2 separate regions of the Homo sapiens genome follow, and region 1 is linked to region 2. The links come from fine-mapping of genetic effects on gene expression. A gene starts in region 2. The other region holds a variant in brackets. All regions are shown on one strand. Distances are between the middles of the regions.

Evidence for each region. PIP is the estimated chance that this variant, and not a neighbour inherited with it, causes the effect. A credible set is the group of variants that fine-mapping cannot tell apart.
Region 1: its variant is the best candidate, but not a certain one, in a credible set for the expression of CTH in Th2 cells (Schmiedel 2018, PIP 0.65).

What each region holds. Positions count from the first base shown.
Region 1 is chr1:70,317,419-70,322,802 of GRCh38, forward strand. All of the region lies in intron 3 of ANKRD13C (ankyrin repeat domain 13C), which reads right to left. Among named protein-coding and RNA genes, the nearest start is that of ANKRD13C, 35 kb to the right of the region's middle. The variant C/CT (reference allele first, on the strand shown) is at 2,234.
Region 2 is chr1:70,408,328-70,413,711 of GRCh38, forward strand. It overlaps CTH (cystathionine gamma-lyase), which reads left to right and starts at 2,941. Exons shown (of 12, transcript NM_001902.6): 1 at 2,941-3,256. The coding sequence starts at 3,089. RefSeq lists an enhancer at 2,512-2,771 and a silencer at 2,832-2,981.

The sequences.
Region 1 (5,384 bases), 91 kb before region 2:
TTTTTAAAGACTATTCTTCCTACTTTTGGTTTCAAATATCTTTTTTTTAAAAATAAAATGTGGATCACAAAAGACAGTAGTTATCGTTTTTATAAAGTTCTGATAGTCTAAGATGAAAAAGTTAGATTCCCTATATCAATCACCAGTAAAAAAAATTTTTCTGGTCTGTGAAATCCAAAAAGTCTGAGAATCAATGACTTAGATAATCATTTAAAGATTCAAGTATGAATCTGACAAACCTTCCTGTTCATTATAATTTAACTTTAATGTCAAAGTTATATTACTCAAATGTAGTACAATTCTTTTTAATGGTCATTGTTTTCTACTATAAGCTCAAGTACCTTAATAAATCTTATTCAATCTACCTTGCCTTCAGATTGAAATGGACCTCAGTTGAATGCAGAGAATGAAAAGAATTCAATTCCTAGATAAAAAGGGTCTTTCAATAAAAAGCAGAGGCTACATATTTTTTTATCAGCCTGATTTTATTAACTAAATATAATTGTAACTGACTGAAGGCATTCAGTAAATAATGACCAAACATCATTTAAAAAGCTGAAGGCATTCAATAAATAACGACCAAACATCATTAAAAAGGTAATGGCAACCACTGTATATAGCACAGTATAATAACATATGCGAAGAGATTCCCTTTTCTATATGACTTCATATTGAAAAATACCATAAACTCAAACTTCTTATGGATGCACATTCAGAAAGCAATTACACAAAATTACCAATTACCAGTATCCTTTTTAGGGATCAGTATTTGTATTCCCATATTGTAAGAATTTTATTAATACTGATTAACAATGAAGATTAAAATTAGCTTTAGAGGATTTAGGTGATAAAAGAATTCATACAAAGACTCAAATGCAAAAGTCCATAAACCACAACTAATTTTACTTTCTCCTTCCTCCTTCTCCGACTGAAGTTTACAGTTTGACCTAAAGCTTTTGGAACTATGCCCTACTGCTCCAAGTATTACTTAAATCTGTTACCTTTTGCACTCCTCTTCCTTCTAAGCTCCAATCTATTTCCTGCTTCCCACCTGGACAATTCTACCTGATGTACTACAGTTGATTCAAACCCAACAAATCTAACACAAATTAAAGACCATACTGCTCTTGCTCCTATAGTCTATATATCAATTAAGTAATGAAATCACCATCAATCCATAATAGAGACCTTAGAGTTACTCTGAATCATTTTATCATTACCCATATCCAAGAGATAATCCATTCTGTTAAATCAATCTTTGTTTTTTTTTTTTTTTTTTTTTTGAGACGGAGTCTCGCTCTGTCGCCAGGCTGGAATGCAGCGGCGCAATCTTGGCTCACTGCAACCTCTGCCTCTTGGGTTCAAGCTATTCTCCTGCCTCAGTCTCCAGAGTAGCTGGGACTACAGGTGTGCGCCACCATGCCCAGCTAATTTTTGTATTTTTAGTAGAAACAGGGTTTCACCATGTTGGCCAGGATGGTCTCGATCTCTTGACATCATGATCCACCTGCCTCAGCCTCCCAAAGTTCTGGGATTGCAGGCATGAGCCACCACGCCCGGCTAAACCTTTCTTTTAATTACTTTCTGATCTATCCCTTCCTTCTCTAAAAACACTATGTCTTTAAGTCAAGCTTACCTCATTTGTTCCAAAAATGTTTTGTTCTAAATATCTCTTGCCTCCCTGACTCCGCTGTATTAATTAGAAAGTCTTTTCACTTATCTAATAATAACAAGCCCTGCTTTGAAGTCTTCTGGGGTTTTGCAGAGACTGGAAATTGGGATTAAAATCTTGACTAGCACATAAAGCTGATATCAATGTGGTCCTTTTATCATTACAACTTCATTTCCCAACACTGGTCTTTGCCCCTTCATCCATCTTTGCCATGTATCATTAAGAAGCCAAATACAGGGGCACGGTGGCTCACACCTGTAATCTCAGCACTTTGGGAGGCCGAGCCGGGTGGATTGCCTGAGGTCAGGAGTTCAAGACCAGCCTGGCCAACATAGTGAAACCCCGTCTCTACTAAAAATACAAAAAATTAGCTGGGTGTGGTGGCGGGTGCCTGTAATCTCAGCTACTCGGGAGACTGGGGCAGGAGAATTGCTTGAATCTGAGAGGCGGAGGCTGCAGAGAGCCAAGATCGCGCCATTGCATTCCAGCCTGAGCAACAAGAGGGAAACTCCATCTCAAAAAAAAAAAGAAACCAAATACATATTGTTCCCTAGCATATGC[C/CT]TTTTTTTTTTTTTAATATTTCCATGCTTTATACACATTCCACTCTCGCACAGTAGAATGCCTTTACCCACCTTTTTAACTTCTAAAACCCTTTGAGACAGCTTTAATAACCAAACACCTTGCTAAGAACCTGAATAACTTTTCCACTCATCTGTTTCCCCCAGGACTTTGTAAATACTTCAGAATGCCACAGAATATTCACTGGTCTCTCTCCCTTAAGTAGGATGACTTCCTCAATATCAAAGTTAATGGCACATCCTGACTATGTTTCTGACACATCTAGTAGGTATTCAGAACACAAATAGACAATTCCTGGCCTCATACACTCTGCCTAAAGGGAATGGGCAGAGTTCTGAGACAATATATGAGCAGAGAAAACTTCCTTGTACTTGAGCTGAGATCTGAAGAATCTTAAGGAGCTGTGACAAAAAGAGGGGGATATATAAGTATGAGGAGTATGAGAAACCAAAAAGCCAGCAGAGCTGACACATAGAAAGCCAGATGGAAAGAACAAGATGAGGAAGGAGACAAGGAAGTGATAGTATCATACTGGACCTTATAAACAAAGTTAGCAATTTTGGTCTTTGTCCTCAGAACAGGAGGTTTTAAAGAATTTTATGTAGAGAATAATATGACCAGAAGACGAAACTAAAATATAACAAAATATTAACAGTGGTTGTCTTTTTTTTTTTCTTGAGACAGGGTCTCACTTTGTCCCAGGCTCCAGGCTGGAGTGCAGTGGCACAATGTCAGCTCACCACAGCCTCAGCCTCCCAGGCTCAAGTGGATCCTCCCATCTCAGCTCCCAAGTAGCTGGGGCCACATACGCACATCACCATGCCTGGCTAATTTTTGTATTTTTTTGTAGAGACAGGTTTTTGCCATGCTGCTTAGGCTGGTCTTGAACTCCCAGGCTCAAGCGACCCACCTGTCTCGGCCTCCCAAAGTGCTGGGATTATAGGCATGCCCCACCACACCTGACCCAACAGTGGTTATCTTTGAGTGATATTATTTTCTTTTCTTTTCCCTATAATTCCTAATTTTCTACGATGAATGTCATCATTTTCTTATAAGAAAAAACAAAGTTTTGAAAACTCAGGAGAGTTGTGATAAATAAAAGTCCTACTATAATACTTTACTTTTTTCTTTTTTTTTTTAGACAGGGTCTCACTCTGTCACCCAGGTTGGAGTGCAGTGGCGTGATCTCAGCTCACTGCTACCTCCACCTCCCAGGGTCAAGCAATCCTCCCACCTCAGGCTCCCGCGTAGCTGGGACTACAGGCACACACTACCACACCAGCTAATTTTTGTACTTTTTGTAGTGTTGGGGTCCCCCTATGTTTCCCAGGCTCAAGCAATCTGCCTGCTTTGGCCTCCCAAAGCGCTGGGGTTACTGGCATCTAATATAATACTTTAAAGAAAAATTTTGATTCTTGATACACAGTCTCGAATTTTCTTTGTAGTTTTTATTCATCTCTTCATTAATTCATTAAACAAATATTGTACCAGAGATAAAGGGGTGAATAAGATAACATATGCATGACTTGAAGTCTCACAAAGCTTATATTATCAAGATACACAGAGTAGGGAACACATACTGAAAAATTAATTAGAAGTATGCAACATATTGCAAAGGAAAAGACTAAACCACTTTGAAAATGTACAAGAAGAAGAACTTAACCTACTCTAGAAGTTGAGAAAAGCCTTCTCTCAAAAAGAAATTTAAAATTGAAGGCTAAATGAAGACTTCTAGTTCAATGTAAGATGGCAAACCAATATGAACTGCTGTCTCTTCCTCCACATTAACACCTTTGATGTGCCACAAAAATAAGACAAAGGCCGACAGAATTCCCAAAACTACCATAACACAAGTATACCATGACATAAGTCTGCACAAACTGTGAACAACTTCTGGAGAGACAAAAGACAACTAGATCCCAGAGTGCATAAAGAAACCAGAGCTGTCTCGATCAGAGAAAGCTAGGAACCATGGGTGAGGGATAAATTGTGGGAAAAAAAGGCTTTTTAGTTGTATCCATATCTCTATCTCATACTGGTCTGGGCTGATCACTGTTTACCAGGTAACCACTGTAAGGCAGAAAAGCAACATAATCTTGAAATTTTATTATTAATTAGTGAAATGATTCTAAACAGTCTCTGACAAGTAGTTTGCATTGTCTGTTTTGTGGTACAAGAATGTTAGCAAAATTATCAGAAATCAGAAGAAATGGACACAAAAATAGGTCACAAAGTTTTTGCCAGTAATTAATAATATTAGATTATCTCTGATTTTTCAAAAAACATAAAATGTTAATGTAACACAAGCCAAAAAATCAAAAACTTAAATCACAGTGCTTAAGATAATTTCAAAGTACAGACATAGCCGGGCATGGTGGCTCACGCCTGTAATCCCAGCACTTTGGGAGGCCGAGGCAAGTAGATTACCTGAGGTCAGGAATTCGAGACCAGCCTGGCCAACATGGTGAAACCCCATCTCTACTAAAAATACAAAAATTAGTTGGGCACTGTGGCAGGTGCCTGTAGTCCCAGCTACTCAGGAGAACCGCTTGAACTCGGTCTCAAAAAAAATAAATAAATAAAAATAAGTACAGACATATGTTTAACACCATTATACATTTATATTAATATTTCTAATAAACCGTAAGAGATATTCAATTAATTATCCTTTAAGTTAGCAGTTAAGTATTTGTTTCATGTGATGGAAAGTAATGAAAATATAAGCACCGAGCAATTATGGTTATATAATTACATAATAATGGACAATGGGATATTATTTAGAATGGCTAAGGTATCACTCTACATAAGAAAATCACTTTAAGAACAGACCTCAACTATCTGAGCCTCAATCTTTTACCTTTAAATTGATTGTTAAATATCCTTTAACTAATTTTCCATGAAAATTTTGTTTATTGGCCTTCCCAATAATTATGAATTCTTAAACAGAAGAGACCAGGTCTTTTATTCTCCACATCTTAATACACACACATGCTTTATAGTAAGGACTCAGTAAATACTGACTCTGAGTAAAGAATCCTTGAGGCCGGGCGCAGTGGCTCACACCTGTAACCCCAGCATTTTGGGAGGCCGAGGCTGGTGGATCACCTGACGTCAGGAGTTCAAAACCAGCTTG
Region 2 (5,384 bases):
AGTTTCCCATTTCCTCTAAAATATCTGCTTTTGCTGAATCTCCTTCCCAAGAAGAATTAATAATTCTTCTGTAAGTGTTATGATATTTTGTTGTATGCAACATAATTTATATGAAAAATTAGCACACACCTCAAACTATATACCATTTATTGGATTTAAAGTGGCTATCATTTAATCATTTAAAAAGCTTTTTTTCTAAATACAGTTGTCTTTCTAAAATGTTTAAATTAGGGTTTTTGGTAGTATTATTATTGTTGAAAAGGTAATATGTGCCCATGATATAAAACTTGAACACAAAAGAGAATAAAATGTAAAGAAAATCACCTTTCCACTGCAGATCCATAGTCTCTATGACCAGAAGGATTTTTATACATATGAAATCATAAATATCTGTCTGAAAATAATGCAACATAGTATATATTCTTTTGAAAAAGTGGAAGCATGATGTATACGTTACTTTGCTTTGCTGTCTTAGATATTAGAGATCAATAGGCCAGGTGTGGTGGCTCATGCCTGTAATACCAGCACTTTGGGAGGCCAAGGCTGGTGGATCACTTGAGGCAAGGAGTTCGAGGCCAGCCTGGCCAACATGGTGAAACCCATCTCTACTAAAAATACAAAAATTAGCCAGACATGGTGGCTGCATCTGTAGTCCCAGCTACTTGGGAGGCTGAGGCAGAAGAATCTCTTGAAACCTGGAGGCAGAGGTTGCAGTGATTCGAAATGGCACCACTGCACTCCAGCCTGGGTAACAGAGCGAGACTCTGACATACCAGCACATCTCAATCTCTTCCTGCTTCTTGGCCATACTGTAGCCATCACAGAGTAGTATCATAACCAGTTAACCAGTCTTTTAAGAATGAATAATTAAGCCATTTTTCACTCTTTTGCTATTAAAAATAGTAACGTAGGTTTAAAAAGCATCCTTGCTCATCTCTGTACACATATTAAGAATATATCTAAAGGATAAATTCCTGCAAGTAAAATTTTCTACAAAAGAAATTGCTGAGTCATAGAAAGGGGATATTTTAAATCCTTGATACATATTAAGCTGCATCCAATAAAGTTTTCTCAGTTTAAGAGAGTAAAAAAGGCCTGATTTATAGCATTTGTATTGGGTGCTATCTTTTTTTTTTTTTTTTTTGAGATGGAGTCTCACTCTGTGGCCCAGGCTGTAGTGCAGTGACATGATCTCGGCTCACTGCAACCTCCGCCTCCTGGGTTCAAGCGATTCTCCTGTCTCAGGCTCCCAAGGAGCTGGGATTACAGGTGTGCACCACTACGCCCAGCTAAGTTTTGTGTTTTTTGTAGAGATGGGGTTTCACCCTGCTGGCCAGGCTGGTCTCGAACTCTTGACTTCAGGTGATTCGCCCACCTCGGCCTCCCAAAGTGCTGGGATTAATAGGCGTTAGCCAATGCACCCAGCCTAGTGCTGTCTTCTGAATGATTCTTTATTACAGTACACTAAATAAAATGTCTGTATTTATGCAACTCAGGGTTTGTCAGCAAATATTAGGAGGTAAAACTAATTGGAACTGTTTTAGACCCTTTTGGCCCCTAAATGCCATATCATATTACACAAAAATACCCACCTATAGTTATACATAAATATTGAGGTGAGTTGCAGTTGATGTTATATTTTTAAAAGAAAAATATTAATTAAATATGTATTAATATACATTAGTGTTTTGAAGTCTATCCATTTTTTCCCCCAGCCATACAAAGTTTGGTAGGATTCTAAAAGCTTGTAGGCCCTCAAGCACCACTCCTCTAGTGCTTAATGGGTTAAATGTCCCTAAAGCTAATTTGAAAAGCAAATTGCCTCATTCTTTCTCTTCATATCTTTCTTTCAAACTGTAAATTTTAAGAGCTGTTTATTCCTTATTCTCCTTGTTCTTAATTTGTTTAATAAAGTTTTAGATCTTTAGCGAATATTTTGCAACAACAGAAATATCCCCAAATTTCCTGGTGCTAGAAAACAGCCACAATAGTAAGTAGGTCAAGTCTGTATTGCTTAGGGAACAGGGAGATTTTTGTTTTAAAGCAGTGATTCTTCTGAGAGTAGGGCTCTGGGCGCAGGTGAGTGGTAAACAATCCTTTTTCCTGCAGGGATGTTGCTGTTGTGTAAAAGCAAAAGCATTTTGTGTAAGGATGTTAGGCTCCAGTAAGTATTTCAAAGCCACATTATCTTTCTCATTAGGGGGAGTTTCTCTCTGTACTTTAAAAGAAGATAATGATGCTTGAAAAAGCTCAAGATTGACTAACTTTTAGGAAGCTGCCAGAGTTGTGCATAGACGTCCTCACTACAGTAGCTTCGTTATGTCTTACGAACAATTTAACCTTCACTTCTAGTCATCGTTTCGTCATCGTAAGCACTGGGTCATTACAGAGTTCAGTGTACCTAAAACGCAAGCTGTGACTGATGAGAATCCAAGCTGCAAACTGGGCGGCTTGGGCAACTGTTTTCTTAACCACCCTCCACGTTGTGGCTTACGTCTTTTAGCACCGCCCTCAGGGCAAAGGATGGTGGTCAGAGGTAACTACCACAGTAAAAGAAGGCTATTTATGTGGTCTGTTTACAGTTACCCGGTTTCAACACTAAGCCAGCTTTCCGCCACGTCTCGGGCGAACCTCCGGCCTGAGGTCACAGAGACGCCCGGGTGGCTCTCAGGAGCCAGCATGGCAGCCTCCTCAGGACGGGTACTCAGGAATTTCGCCCGCAGGGACTAACACCACTTGGACCCAGGGACTCCAGCTTCACTCCGCTTTGTGCACTGGGTGGGGCGGTCGCGGTGACGTTTCAGGCAACGCCTCTGCTGTCAGCCAATAAGGAGCGGGAGACGCGTCGGGCCTGCGCTCAATGGGCCGCGCTGGTCCCGCCCCACTGTGATCGTGAGACTGCAGACCCGCTAATAAAATCCACCCCAACAATCGCTGTGTGCCGCTTTAGTGCGCTCGCCGTCGGCTCTACCTGCGTGCTTTAGCTCCTTCTCGCCTGATCCTTCTGTCTCTCCCAACCCCGGACACCCGGCTTCGACTGGTTATATCTTCGGTGTTCTTTTCCTCTCTTCTTCTTTCGCGGTTCAGCATGCAGGAAAAAGACGCCTCCTCACAAGGTTTCCTGCCACACTTCCAACATTTCGCCACGCAGGCGATCCATGTGGGCCAGGATCCAGAGCAATGGACCTCCAGGGCTGTAGTGCCCCCCATCTCACTGTCCACCACGTTCAAGCAAGGGGCGCCTGGCCAGCACTCGGTGAGCTGGGTCTGTCTGGGGCTGTCCACAGTTGGGCGGTAAAAGAGATACGGCTTATGAATTTGAAAGGCATGTAAGTAATTTATAATATGACTTATAAATTAGGAAGGCAACCGAAAGATGTTTCTACACTGTAATTCTTGCAGCACAGCTTTGTATCGGATGGTCCAGTGATCGTATTTCTTTTGATAAGCAGGACTGGAAGGAGCCGTTTGTCCAGCTTGCCATTTAGATTTGGCCTGAAATTCAGGTGATTTTGACAAATTTGCAATTAAAAATCGAAGGTCATAACTTTTTTGAGTTACCTTTAGCAGCATAAATTTTAAAGATGTAGTACGGAGTCAGCTTAAAAAATATTAAGGGTCTGATAACTTGACTAGAATTAAGATTGTTTCCAGTAGCTGTATGAATAGTTATTGAGTACCTACTATATGCCAAATACGTGCTCGTATATATCATGTGTATTACATGTATTGTCTCATCTAATCCTAACAACAACCCTAGTCTGAACCGAATTCTCATTTTTTCCCAATAAAGAAGCTGAGATTTAGGGAGTTAAGTAACTAGCCTTAGACTAGTAAGTATTGGAGATGGAATTCAAACTTTAGAAACTTGAGGTTGCTTTAGGAACCAACTCCTAGGCACTCAGCTACACTATGCTATCTCTAATAATGCTAGTAACAATTTAGCCTATTGCGTCATTTAAGCACTGTGGCTTAGTGATTAAGAACACAACTCATGACCGGGTGCAGTGGCTTACGCCTGTAATCCCAGCACTTTGGGAGGCTGAGGCGGGTGGATCACCTGAGGACAGGAGTTCGAGCCCAGCCTGGCCAACATGGTGAAACCCCATCTCTACTAAAAATAAATAAATTAGCTGGGCATGGTGGCGGGTAATCTCAGCTACTCGGGAAGCTGAGGCAGGAGAATCGCTTGAACCCAGGAGGCAGAGGTTGCAGTGAGCCAAGATCTCACCATTGTGCTCCAGCCTGGGTGACAAGAGTGAAACTCCAACTCAAACAACAACAGAAAAAGAGAACACAAATCTTATAGTCAAAGGCTAGGTTTGCATTCTGACACCACTTCTTCTGAGCTGGGGGACCTTGGGCAAGTTAGTTAACCTATCAAAACCTCTGACTGATCCTGTATAAATGGGGATAATAATAGTATCTACCACATAAGTTGTTGAGATGTATTTAAGGCTGTATAGTACATAATAATTACTCGATGGTAATTTGTTTTTTCATGATGTTCACATTTACACTATTTCCATTTGATCCTCACAACAACCAGGTCAGAAGGCAGGACAGGTATTATGTACTTTTTATAGAAAAGGAACTGACACAGAGTCATACATGAATGATCTGTAAAGCCTACGAAGGAGCCCTCTTTGTTAATCACATAGCTTTTTTCCCCCTTTTGGTGGCATACTTGATGGATCTTAGAGAATTTAAAAGTTGCTGAGATTTGTAAGAATTAGTTAAAGTCTGTAAGTCCAAAGCCTTGATTATGCTTTGGAAACCACTTCAGTGTGTTATATAAGTTGAGGAAAATCCTTACAGACAGTCCCTTGTTTTGTGAGATACAGTTCTAAGGCCATTTCTACAACTGGTTTAGAATACTCTTTACTGTATTTTAGAATCAAAATATGTACACAGCCTCTCTTTCTTTCTTTCTTTTTTTTTTTTTTTTATTTTTCAGAGAGAGTCTTACTCTGTCACCCAGGCTGGAGTGCAGTGGTGCGATCTCGGCTCACTGCAACCTCCGCCTCCCGGGTTCAAGCGATTCTCCGGCCTCAGCCTCCTAAGTAGCTGGGATTACAGGCGCCTGCCACTGCGCCTGACTCATTTTTTATTTTTTTTAGTAGAGACGGGGTTTCACCATGTTGGCCAGGCTGCTCTTGAACTCCTGACCTCGTGATTCACCCGCCTTGGCCTCCCAAAGTGCTGGGATTACAGGTGTGAGCCACGGCGCCCGGCTCACAGCCTCTCTTTCAAACATGCAGTTCGTTTCTTGTGTAGGGTTTAATGAAAGTGTAGCTGCCCAAGCTTTGGAACTTAGTGCAAAAGTTTACCATTCAGGTGTGATATTAATAATTAAATGTTTCCAGGAAGCCAGCAGGGATGGT